Homo sapiens: one gene and its partners. The protein of the gene in region 3 purifies or fractionates together with the protein of the main gene of each other region. This does not show direct contact. Each region holds a gene or a part of one and is shown on either strand. Other genes may lie near its edges. The genes, in order: MAP1A, MTMR4 and TAS2R31.

Region 1 (2,410 bases), on a different chromosome or scaffold from region 3:
CAAGAGCCTCCAGTCTGACACTCCAACCTTCAGCTATGCAGCCCTGGCAGGACCCACTGTACCCCCAAGGCCAGAGCCAGGGCCAAGTATGGAGCCCAGCCTCACCCCACCTGCAGTTCCCCCCCGTGCTCCTATCCTGAGCAAAGGCCCAAGCCCCCCTCTTAATGGTAACATCCTGAGCTGCAGCCCAGATAGGAGGTCCCCATCCCCCAAGGAATCAGGCCGGAGTCACTGGGATGACAGCACTAGTGACTCAGAACTGGAGAAGGGGGCTCGGGAACAGCCAGAAAAAGAGGCCCAATCCCCAAGTCCTCCTCACCCCATTCCTATGGGGTCCCCCACATTATGGCCAGAAACTGAGGCACATGTTAGCCCTCCCTTGGACTCACACCTGGGGCCTGCCCGACCCAGTCTGGACTTCCCTGCTTCAGCCTTTGGCTTCTCCTCATTGCAGCCAGCTCCCCCACAGCTGCCCTCTCCAGCTGAACCCCGCTCGGCACCCTGTGGCTCCCTTGCCTTCTCTGGGGATCGAGCTCTGGCTCTGGCTCCAGGACCCCCCACCAGAACCCGGCATGATGAATACCTGGAAGTGACCAAGGCCCCCAGCCTGGATTCCTCACTGCCCCAGCTCCCATCACCCAGTTCTCCTGGGGCCCCTCTCCTCTCCAATCTGCCACGACCTGCCTCACCAGCCCTGTCTGAGGGCTCCTCCTCTGAGGCTACCACGCCTGTGATTTCAAGTGTGGCGGAGCGCTTCTCTCCAAGCCTTGAGGCTGCAGAACAGGAGTCTGGAGAGCTGGACCCAGGAATGGAACCAGCTGCCCACAGCCTCTGGGACCTCACTCCTCTGAGCCCAGCACCCCCAGCTTCACTGGACTTGGCCCTAGCTCCAGCTCCAAGCCTGCCTGGAGACATGGGTGATGGCATCCTGCCGTGCCACCTGGAGTGCTCAGAGGCAGCCACGGAGAAGCCAAGCCCCTTCCAGGTTCCCTCTGAGGATTGTGCAGCCAATGGCCCAACTGAAACCAGCCCTAACCCCCCAGGCCCTGCCCCAGCCAAGGCTGAAAATGAAGAGGCTGCGGCTTGCCCTGCCTGGGAACGTGGGGCCTGGCCTGAAGGAGCTGAGAGGAGCTCCCGGCCTGACACATTGCTCTCCCCTGAGCAGCCAGTGTGTCCTGCAGGGGGCTCCGGGGGCCCACCCAGCAGTGCCTCTCCTGAGGTCGAAGCTGGGCCCCAGGGATGTGCCACTGAGCCTCGGCCCCATCGTGGGGAGCTCTCCCCATCCTTCCTGAACCCACCTCTGCCCCCATCCATAGATGATAGGGACCTCTCAACTGAGGAAGTTCGGCTAGTAGGAAGAGGGGGGCGGCGCCGGGTAGGGGGGCCAGGGACCACTGGGGGCCCATGCCCTGTGACTGATGAGACACCCCCTACATCAGCCAGTGACTCAGGCTCCTCACAGTCAGATTCTGATGTCCCGCCAGAAACTGAGGAGTGTCCGTCCATCACAGCTGAGGCAGCCCTCGACTCAGATGAAGATGGAGACTTCCTACCTGTGGACAAAGCTGGGGGTGTCAGTGGTACTCACCACCCCAGGCCTGGCCATGACCCACCTCCTCTCCCACAGCCAGACCCCCGCCCATCCCCTCCCCGCCCTGATGTGTGCATGGCTGACCCCGAGGGGCTCAGCTCAGAGTCTGGGAGAGTAGAGAGGCTACGGGAGAAGGAAAAGGTTCAGGGGCGAGTAGGGCGCAGGGCCCCAGGCAAGGCCAAGCCAGCGTCCCCTGCACGGCGTCTGGATCTTCGGGGAAAACGCTCACCCACCCCTGGTAAAGGGCCTGCAGATCGAGCATCCCGGGCCCCACCTCGACCACGCAGCACCACAAGCCAGGTCACCCCAGCAGAGGAAAAGGATGGACACAGCCCCATGTCCAAAGGCCTAGTCAATGGACTCAAGGCAGGACCAAGTAAGTATATCATGAAACTTGGCAGAGAGTGTGGGTTAGGGCTGGGTGTGGGCTGGTCAGACTTCAGGAGTGGGACAGAGGGGAAGGTTGCCAAAAGGGTTCTACTTTTCCTCTACAATGAATCCTGGCTTGTCTCTACAGTGGCCTTGAGTTCCAAGGGCAGCTCTGGTGCCCCTGTATATGTGGATCTCGCCTACATCCCGAATCATTGCAGTGGCAAGACTGCTGACCTTGACTTCTTCCGTCGAGTGCGTGCATCCTACTATGTGGTCAGTGGGAATGACCCTGCCAATGGCGAGCCAAGCCGGGCTGTGCTGGATGCCCTGCTGGAGGGCAAGGCCCAGTGGGGGGAGAATCTTCAGGTGAGTAGCAAAGGACACCAAGGAAGTAGTCTGGTCAACGCTCACTCAGAGGCAGTAGTGGAACACAGTCCCTATTTATTA
Region 2 (3,658 bases), on a different chromosome or scaffold from region 3:
TCTCCTCGTAATATGGGCTGAAAGCACCTGCTGTGCAACGTTATTGGGATCATTAATTGGGATCACATATGCAGAGGACTCCGTACAGTTACCAGGTGCTTAACAGACCCTCAGTAAATGTTGGTTTCCTTCCTGCTATTGATACATTAGTGCCTACGCTAGGGTGAGGGTGAGGAGTGGTACCCAGTGGGGAGTCTGAGCTTCAGTTTGCCCTTCCTCTACAGGTCCCCCTCCGGATGATTGACAGTGTGGAGAGCCGTGATATGTTCCAGTTGCACATTTCCTGCAAGGACTCCAAAGTGGTGAGGTGAGAACAACGGAGCCTCACTCAGGTCCCCTGGCCCTAGTCTTGTCCAGTTCTCTGTGCTGCAGGGTTTCTCTGGTGCAAGAGAGGAAAGATCCTGCCTCACTTTCCCCAGTTGGAAGAAAAGGTGAAGACCATGTTCTGGGTTGGGAGGTCAGTTTACTGACCCATAGGATCTTGACCTGAAAAAATGGGGGTAATGCCTAGTTCATGGAGTCATCGTAAGGATTAAGTGAGATAATGTGTATGTGTATGAAAGCACCGAGGACAATATCTGGCACAGAGCACTCATATTATTGTTGGTTTATTTATTTATTCATTTGATATACATGTATTGAGTACCCTACTCAATGCCAGCCTGTTTTAAGCCCTGGGGATACAGCAGGGAACAAATAGACAAAATTTTGCCGCCTCAGAGAGCTTACATTCCAATGAGGAGATACCAACCGTAAGTAATAAGTAAAATTTGTGAAATGATAGTAAGTGTAAAGGAAAAAAATAAAGCAGGGAAAGGGAATAAGGAGTGCTATGAGGGTGAAGATTGTAAAACAATCAGGCTGGGCACGGTGGTTCACGCCTGTAATACCAGCACTTCGGGTGGCCAAGGTGGGAAGATCCCTTCAGCTTAGGAGTTCAAGATCAGCCTGGGCAACATAGCGAGACCCCATCTCTACTAAAAATAGAAAAAATTAGCCAGGTGTGGTGATGCGTGGGGAGATCGCTTCAGCTTAGGAGTTCAAGATCAGCTTGGGCAACAGGACGAGACCCCATCTCTACTAAAAATATAAAAAATTAGCCAGGCGTGGTGATGCATGCCTGTAGTCCCAGCTACTCAAGAGGCTGAGATAGGAGGACCTCTTGAGCCTGAGAAGTCGAGGCTGCAGTGAGCTGTGATTACACCACTGCACTCCAGCCTGGATGACAGAGTGAGACCCTGTCTCAAAAAAACAAAAGTGATCAGAGAAGCTGCACCGAAAAGGTGGCAGTCGAGTCAAGACTTGAAGAAAGTGGCCATGTGGCTATTTGGTGGAAGAGTGTGCCAGAGACAGAGAACGGCAAGTGCAAAGGCCTTGAGGTGGGTGTGTGCCTGCATATTGGGAGACTGGCAGGGAGGCTGGTGTTGTTGGAGTAGAGCACGTGTGGGTGAGGGTAGTGGGTTATATGACCTGAGAACAAAGCCGGGTGTCAGACACTTTGGCTGTCATGAAGACTGGCTTTTACTTTGAGGGAACTGAGAAACCACTGGAGGATTTTGAGCAAAGGAGTGATGTGATCTGATTAATGTTTCATAGAATCACACTGGCTGCTATATTGAGACTAGATGAAAGAGAATGGGGGCAAGAGCAAAAGCAAAAACTGGGAGACTAGTTAGGAAGCTATTGCAGTTACCCAGATGAGAGATCATGGTGGCCTGTCTGAGGTGGTAGCAGCCAAAGCGGTGAGAAGCATTCAGATTCTGGGTGTATTTTGAAGGTGGAGATGAGAAGATTTGCTGACAGATTTGAAGTGAAAGAAAGAGGAATCTGGATGACTCCAAGGTTTATTAAAAGGATACCTACTTTAGAGCCTACCATGTGCTCAGGTCTGTGGGGCATTCAGAAGGAGCATTCACATTGCCCTTCCCTTCAAGGAGGCTAAACTCTAGCTGCTGGAAGAAGATTTAACATGTGGCAATATGCTATGGGAAAATGTGTTGCTTAGTACTCCAAGTAGGCCAGGCACAGTGGCACATACCTGTAATCCTAGTACTTTGGGAGGCCGAGGGAGGAGGATCGCTTGAGCCCAGGAGTTCAAGATCAGCCTGGACAACATAGAGAGACCCTGTCTCTATGAAGAATTTAAAAAGTTAGCCAGACGTGGTGGTGCACAATTATGGTCTCAGCTACTCAGGGGACTGATTTGTGAGGATTGCCTGAGCCCAGGAGGTCGAGGCTGCAGGGAGCTGTGATCGTGCCACTACACTCCAGCCTGGGTGACAGAGCAAGAGCAAGACCCTCTCTCAAAAAAAAAAAAAAAGGTATATATATATATTCCAAGCACATTAAGAATCAAGAGAGGAAGGAGTTTCTGGAATAGAGTAGGCTGGGAAGGCTTCAAGGAAGAGGTGAGACTGAAACTATCTTCAAAGCATCAGTAGGATGTGGCTAGGCAGAGAGGAGACATTATCAAGCAGAAGATAAACCAAGGAGATGGGAAGGATGTGAGCAGAACTTCCCGCCTGAAGCAGAAGGTTTGAGTTAGGGAGTCATGGGAGATAACACTGGTCCATTAGGGTAGGGACAAGGAGTGCAGACGTTCAGGGCCACATGGTAGCATTTAGATTTGATACGAGAAACAGTAGCGCCCCATTCGAGAGGATAAGTATGCCTCAAACACAGGAGTTCTTGGGAAGAGAATTATCACAAGAGACAACTTCTGTTGGGTGTTGGCCAGTGTCCCTCGTCCCCCCACCCTGGGTCCCCACTGCTTTACCTCTTGCTTTGCAGCCTTCTCTCCTCACAGCCTTCCTGTGGCTGTGTTTTTGGCCCTGATAGCCCCATGGCACAACTGCACTTTGCCTCACCTAGGCCTGTGGCTTCTTGCCTGGCAGGTGCCACTTCTCCACTTTTAAGCAGTGCCAAGAGTGGCTCTCACGGCTAAGCCGAGCCACAGCAAGACCTGCCAAGCCTGAAGACCTCTTTGCCTTTGCCTACCATGCCTGGTGCCTGGGGCTGACCGAGGAGGACCAGCACACTCACCTATGTCAGCCAGGTGAGGCCAGTCTATTTTCTTTGGGAGGCTGCTTCTTACCCCTTAGTTCTCATCCCTCCTCCACTCCTGCACATTGGTGCTCTGGGAAGCTAACCATCGTGGGGGCTCTGTTGCAGGTGAGCACATACGTTGTCGACAGGAGGCGGAGCTTGCAAGGATGGGCTTTGACCTGCAGAACGTCTGGAGAGTCTCACACATCAACAGCAACTACAAGTGAGAGGGTTGGGGACCAAAACACCTTCCACACCAAACTACTTCCGTGTTTGGATAAAGTGTGGTGGGCACAGCTTCTGAGTCTGAGAGGGAGGAAGGCTCATGGTTTCTCTTCCCACAAAGCCATCCCCAGGGATCCTGTCATCACATGTTTTAGACCCAGTGCAGTGACCCCCACCTGGTCTCTTCTCAGATTGTGCCCCAGTTACCCCCAGAAGCTGCTGGTTCCTGTGTGGATCACTGACAAAGAGCTGGAGAACGTGGCTTCCTTCCGCTCCTGGAAGCGGATTCCCGTGGTTGTGTATAGGTGAGGCAGTGGGGCTGGGAAGTAGGGAGGCCATTTCTTATGCAACAAGGAAAGAGTCAAAATTGGAGATTTTGGGTAACCTG
Region 3 (3,085 bases):
GAATCCCCAGTATGGAAGCCATCTCAAATCTCTATGCAAACTGTAGTAATTTTCTGTTTATCAAAGTAAGTGAAATGATTGAACTCCAAGTTCAGGGGCAAGGTAGTCAGTCTTCCTGTGATAGGATACTGCAGGATTATATATCAAAGGGTCTGGTACTGAGGAATTCTTATAAAATTGCTAAATATTTTTTATAATAATATTTAAACATTAGACTTGAGAGAAACTTTACCAAGTCCTAAGAATTAGAGATAATGTTTTTGATAAATAAATATTATTCATGGGCTGAAAACCCTGAGTGGGAAAATAGGACTAATTTCATCTGCACAGCCTCTTGGAAACTCATTTTTTATTTTGGAAATTACAAGAAAATAATTTGTTCCATTCATAAGTGGTGTGCACATGTGTATATTTGTGTGCATATTTATGAGTTTGTGAATAATGAAGTTATACGAAAGTGTTAGCAGCAACCAGATCTTATGGAGTAGTGGCCTGCCTGTGGTTCTCAAGAAAATCTGAGATGCCTTTGATAAAAGCAGTTAGGATTCTGTGTATTTAAATCTGTGATTTAAAAAAGTCCGCATTGGTGATGATCTTAGTTATGACCAAGCTCCCTTTGAGAATTTAGATATTTACTATATGATATATATATTGAGTTACAAAACTTCCCTAACAACTGAAGTCACTAAAGATAAATGATGGAGAGGTTACACAAGGAAAAATTGCAAACACTGAAAGTGAATATGTCCCTATTTGCGTACTAGCAAATGAGGATTCAGGTTTCACGTCAATTTCAGTGTGAATAATTCCAGCCTATAACAAGAACAGACAGTGAATGAATGAGTTAATTTGAGTTGTTTGAAAATAAGAATGTTTTCCATAAAGAGATCATTGAACTCATCAGTTAACATGCCATGGTTATTTCTGGCTTGACACTGGTCACAACAATTAAAAGTAAAAAGAATGTCACAGCACATTCACAAATCAGGTGCATATAGAATTTAAGGTCAGGATATTCAAGCAATCACACCCAGTTATATTACATTGAGAGATGAAGCGAGCTATACTTTCTGAATCGAGTGGGGACTTGGAGAACGTTTCTGTAGCTAGCAAGGGGATTGTAAAATGCACCAAACAGTGCACTGTAAAACCACAGCAATCAGCGCTCTGTAGCTAGCAAGAGGATTGTAAAATGCACCAATCGCTCTAAAATACACCAAGCAACAGGATCCTAAAAGTAGCCAATGGCAGGGAGGATTGAAAAAAGGGCACTCTGATAGGACAAAAAAAGGAAAATGGGAGGGGACAAATAAGGGAATAAAAGCTCATGGCTTCAGCCAGCAGCAGCAACCTGCCTGGGTCGCCTTCCTCCCGGTGGAAGCTTTGTCCTTTCTCTCTTCTCAATAAACCTTGCTGTTGCTCACTCTTTGGGTCCATGCCATCTTTAAGAGCAGCAACACTCACCGTGAAGGTCGGTGGCTCCATTTTTGAAGTCAGGGAGACCACGAACCCACCTGCAGGAACCAACTCCGGACACAACACCAGCATTAAAACAATTTTTTTTTGTCTGTTCAGACATGACAACTTTTATACCCATCATTTTTTCCAGTGTGGTAGTGGTTCTATTTGTTATTGGAAATTTTGCTAATGGCTTCATAGCATTGGTAAATTCCATTGAGCGGGTCAAGAGACAAAAGATCTCTTTTGCTGACCAGATTCTCACTGCTCTGGCGGTCTCCAGAGTTGGTTTGCTCTGGGTATTATTATTAAATTGGTATTCAACTGTGTTTAATCCAGCTTTTTATAGTGTAGAAGTAAGAACTACTGCTTATAATGTCTGGGCAGTAACCGGCCATTTCAGCAACTGGCTTGCTACTAGCCTCAGCATATTTTATTTGCTCAAGATTGCCAATTTCTCCAACCTTATTTTTCTTCACTTAAAGAGGAGAGTTAAGAGTGTCATTCTGGTGATGCTGTTGGGGCCTTTACTATTTTTGGCTTGTCAACTTTTTGTGATAAACATGAAAGAGATTGTACGGACAAAAGAATATGAAGGAAACTTGACTTGGAAGATCAAATTGAGGAGTGCAGTGTACCTTTCAGATGCGACTGTAACCACGCTAGGAAACTTAGTGCCCTTCACTCTGACCCTGCTATGTTTTTTGCTGTTAATCTGTTCTCTGTGTAAACATCTCAAGAAGATGCAGCTCCATGGTAAAGGATCTCAAGATCCCAGCACCAAGGTCCACATAAAAGCTTTGCAAACTGTGATCTTTTTCCTCTTGTTATGTGCCGTTTACTTTCTGTCCATAATGATATCAGTTTGGAGTTTTGGGAGTCTGGAAAACAAACCTGTCTTCATGTTCTGCAAAGCTATTAGATTCAGCTATCCTTCAATCCACCCATTCATCCTGATTTGGGGAAACAAGAAGCTAAAGCAGACTTTTCTTTCAGTTTTGCGGCAAGTGAGGTACTGGGTGAAAGGAGAGAAGCCTTCATCTCCATAGATTCATGAGAGGGGCATTGTGTGTCTTCTAGCAGAAAACAAACTGGTGGTGTATGAAACATTTTATATTTCTTACTGGTTTTTCTATACTGTATGTGTATGAATAATTTCCCAACGTATACCTAGAAAAGCCTTTGACCTAATATTAGTCTAGAAAAAAAAATATATATATGTGTGTGTTTATGTGTGTATGAAAACTTAAGAACATTGACAATAACATGCTCTTTTCTGTTTTTTTCATACAAACTGCCAAATTATACAAAATATGACAAAAATTTCTTAGAATTTTGAAGCCATGTATATTTCATTCATGTATTTTATATTTCATTTGTAGAATTTATGATGTCTATTTATAATTATTAAGAAGTAACAGCTTATCCCAGGATAAATATTGCTCTTTTCTATTGTTATTTGAACCACAGGAATACACCACATTGTGCTTAGAATTCATTGCTTGAACCTCGAATTTATTGGATGGTAAAGTCATTCAATTCTAAATCAATAATGAGGATGTATCTTTGGTGTTTTATTCCATTATGAATTTCTATTTTATGTTTAGTAAAAAGCAATGAGAATTAT

Evidence for each region.
Region 1: the proteins of TAS2R31 (region 3) and MAP1A purify together in Homo sapiens (affinity purification with mass spectrometry; one large-scale study listed by BioGRID and IntAct). This does not show direct contact.
Region 2: the proteins of TAS2R31 (region 3) and MTMR4 purify together in Homo sapiens (affinity purification with mass spectrometry; one large-scale study listed by BioGRID and IntAct). This does not show direct contact.

The regions. Positions count from the first base shown.
Region 1 is NC_000015.10:43,527,542-43,529,951, forward strand, and holds part of MAP1A (microtubule-associated protein 1A), read left to right. Parts: coding exon 1-1,967; intron 1,968-2,108; coding exon 2,109-2,329; intron 2,330-2,410. UniProt on the Homo sapiens protein: Structural protein involved in the filamentous cross-bridging between microtubules and other skeletal elements.
Region 2 is NC_000017.11:58,508,078-58,511,735, reverse strand, and holds part of MTMR4 (phosphatidylinositol-3,5-bisphosphate 3-phosphatase MTMR4), read left to right. Parts: intron 1-224; coding exon 225-307; intron 308-2,894; coding exon 2,895-3,055; intron 3,056-3,171; coding exon 3,172-3,268; intron 3,269-3,461; coding exon 3,462-3,575; intron 3,576-3,658. UniProt on the Homo sapiens protein: Lipid phosphatase that specifically dephosphorylates the D-3 position of phosphatidylinositol 3-phosphate and phosphatidylinositol 3,5-bisphosphate, generating phosphatidylinositol and phosphatidylinositol 5-phosphate.
Region 3 is NC_000012.12:11,029,828-11,032,912, reverse strand, and holds TAS2R31 (taste receptor type 2 member 31), read left to right. Parts: upstream 1-1,505; 5' UTR 1,506-1,577; coding exon 1,578-2,507; 3' UTR 2,508-2,526; downstream 2,527-3,085. UniProt on the Homo sapiens protein: Receptor that may play a role in the perception of bitterness and is gustducin-linked. May play a role in sensing the chemical composition of the gastrointestinal content.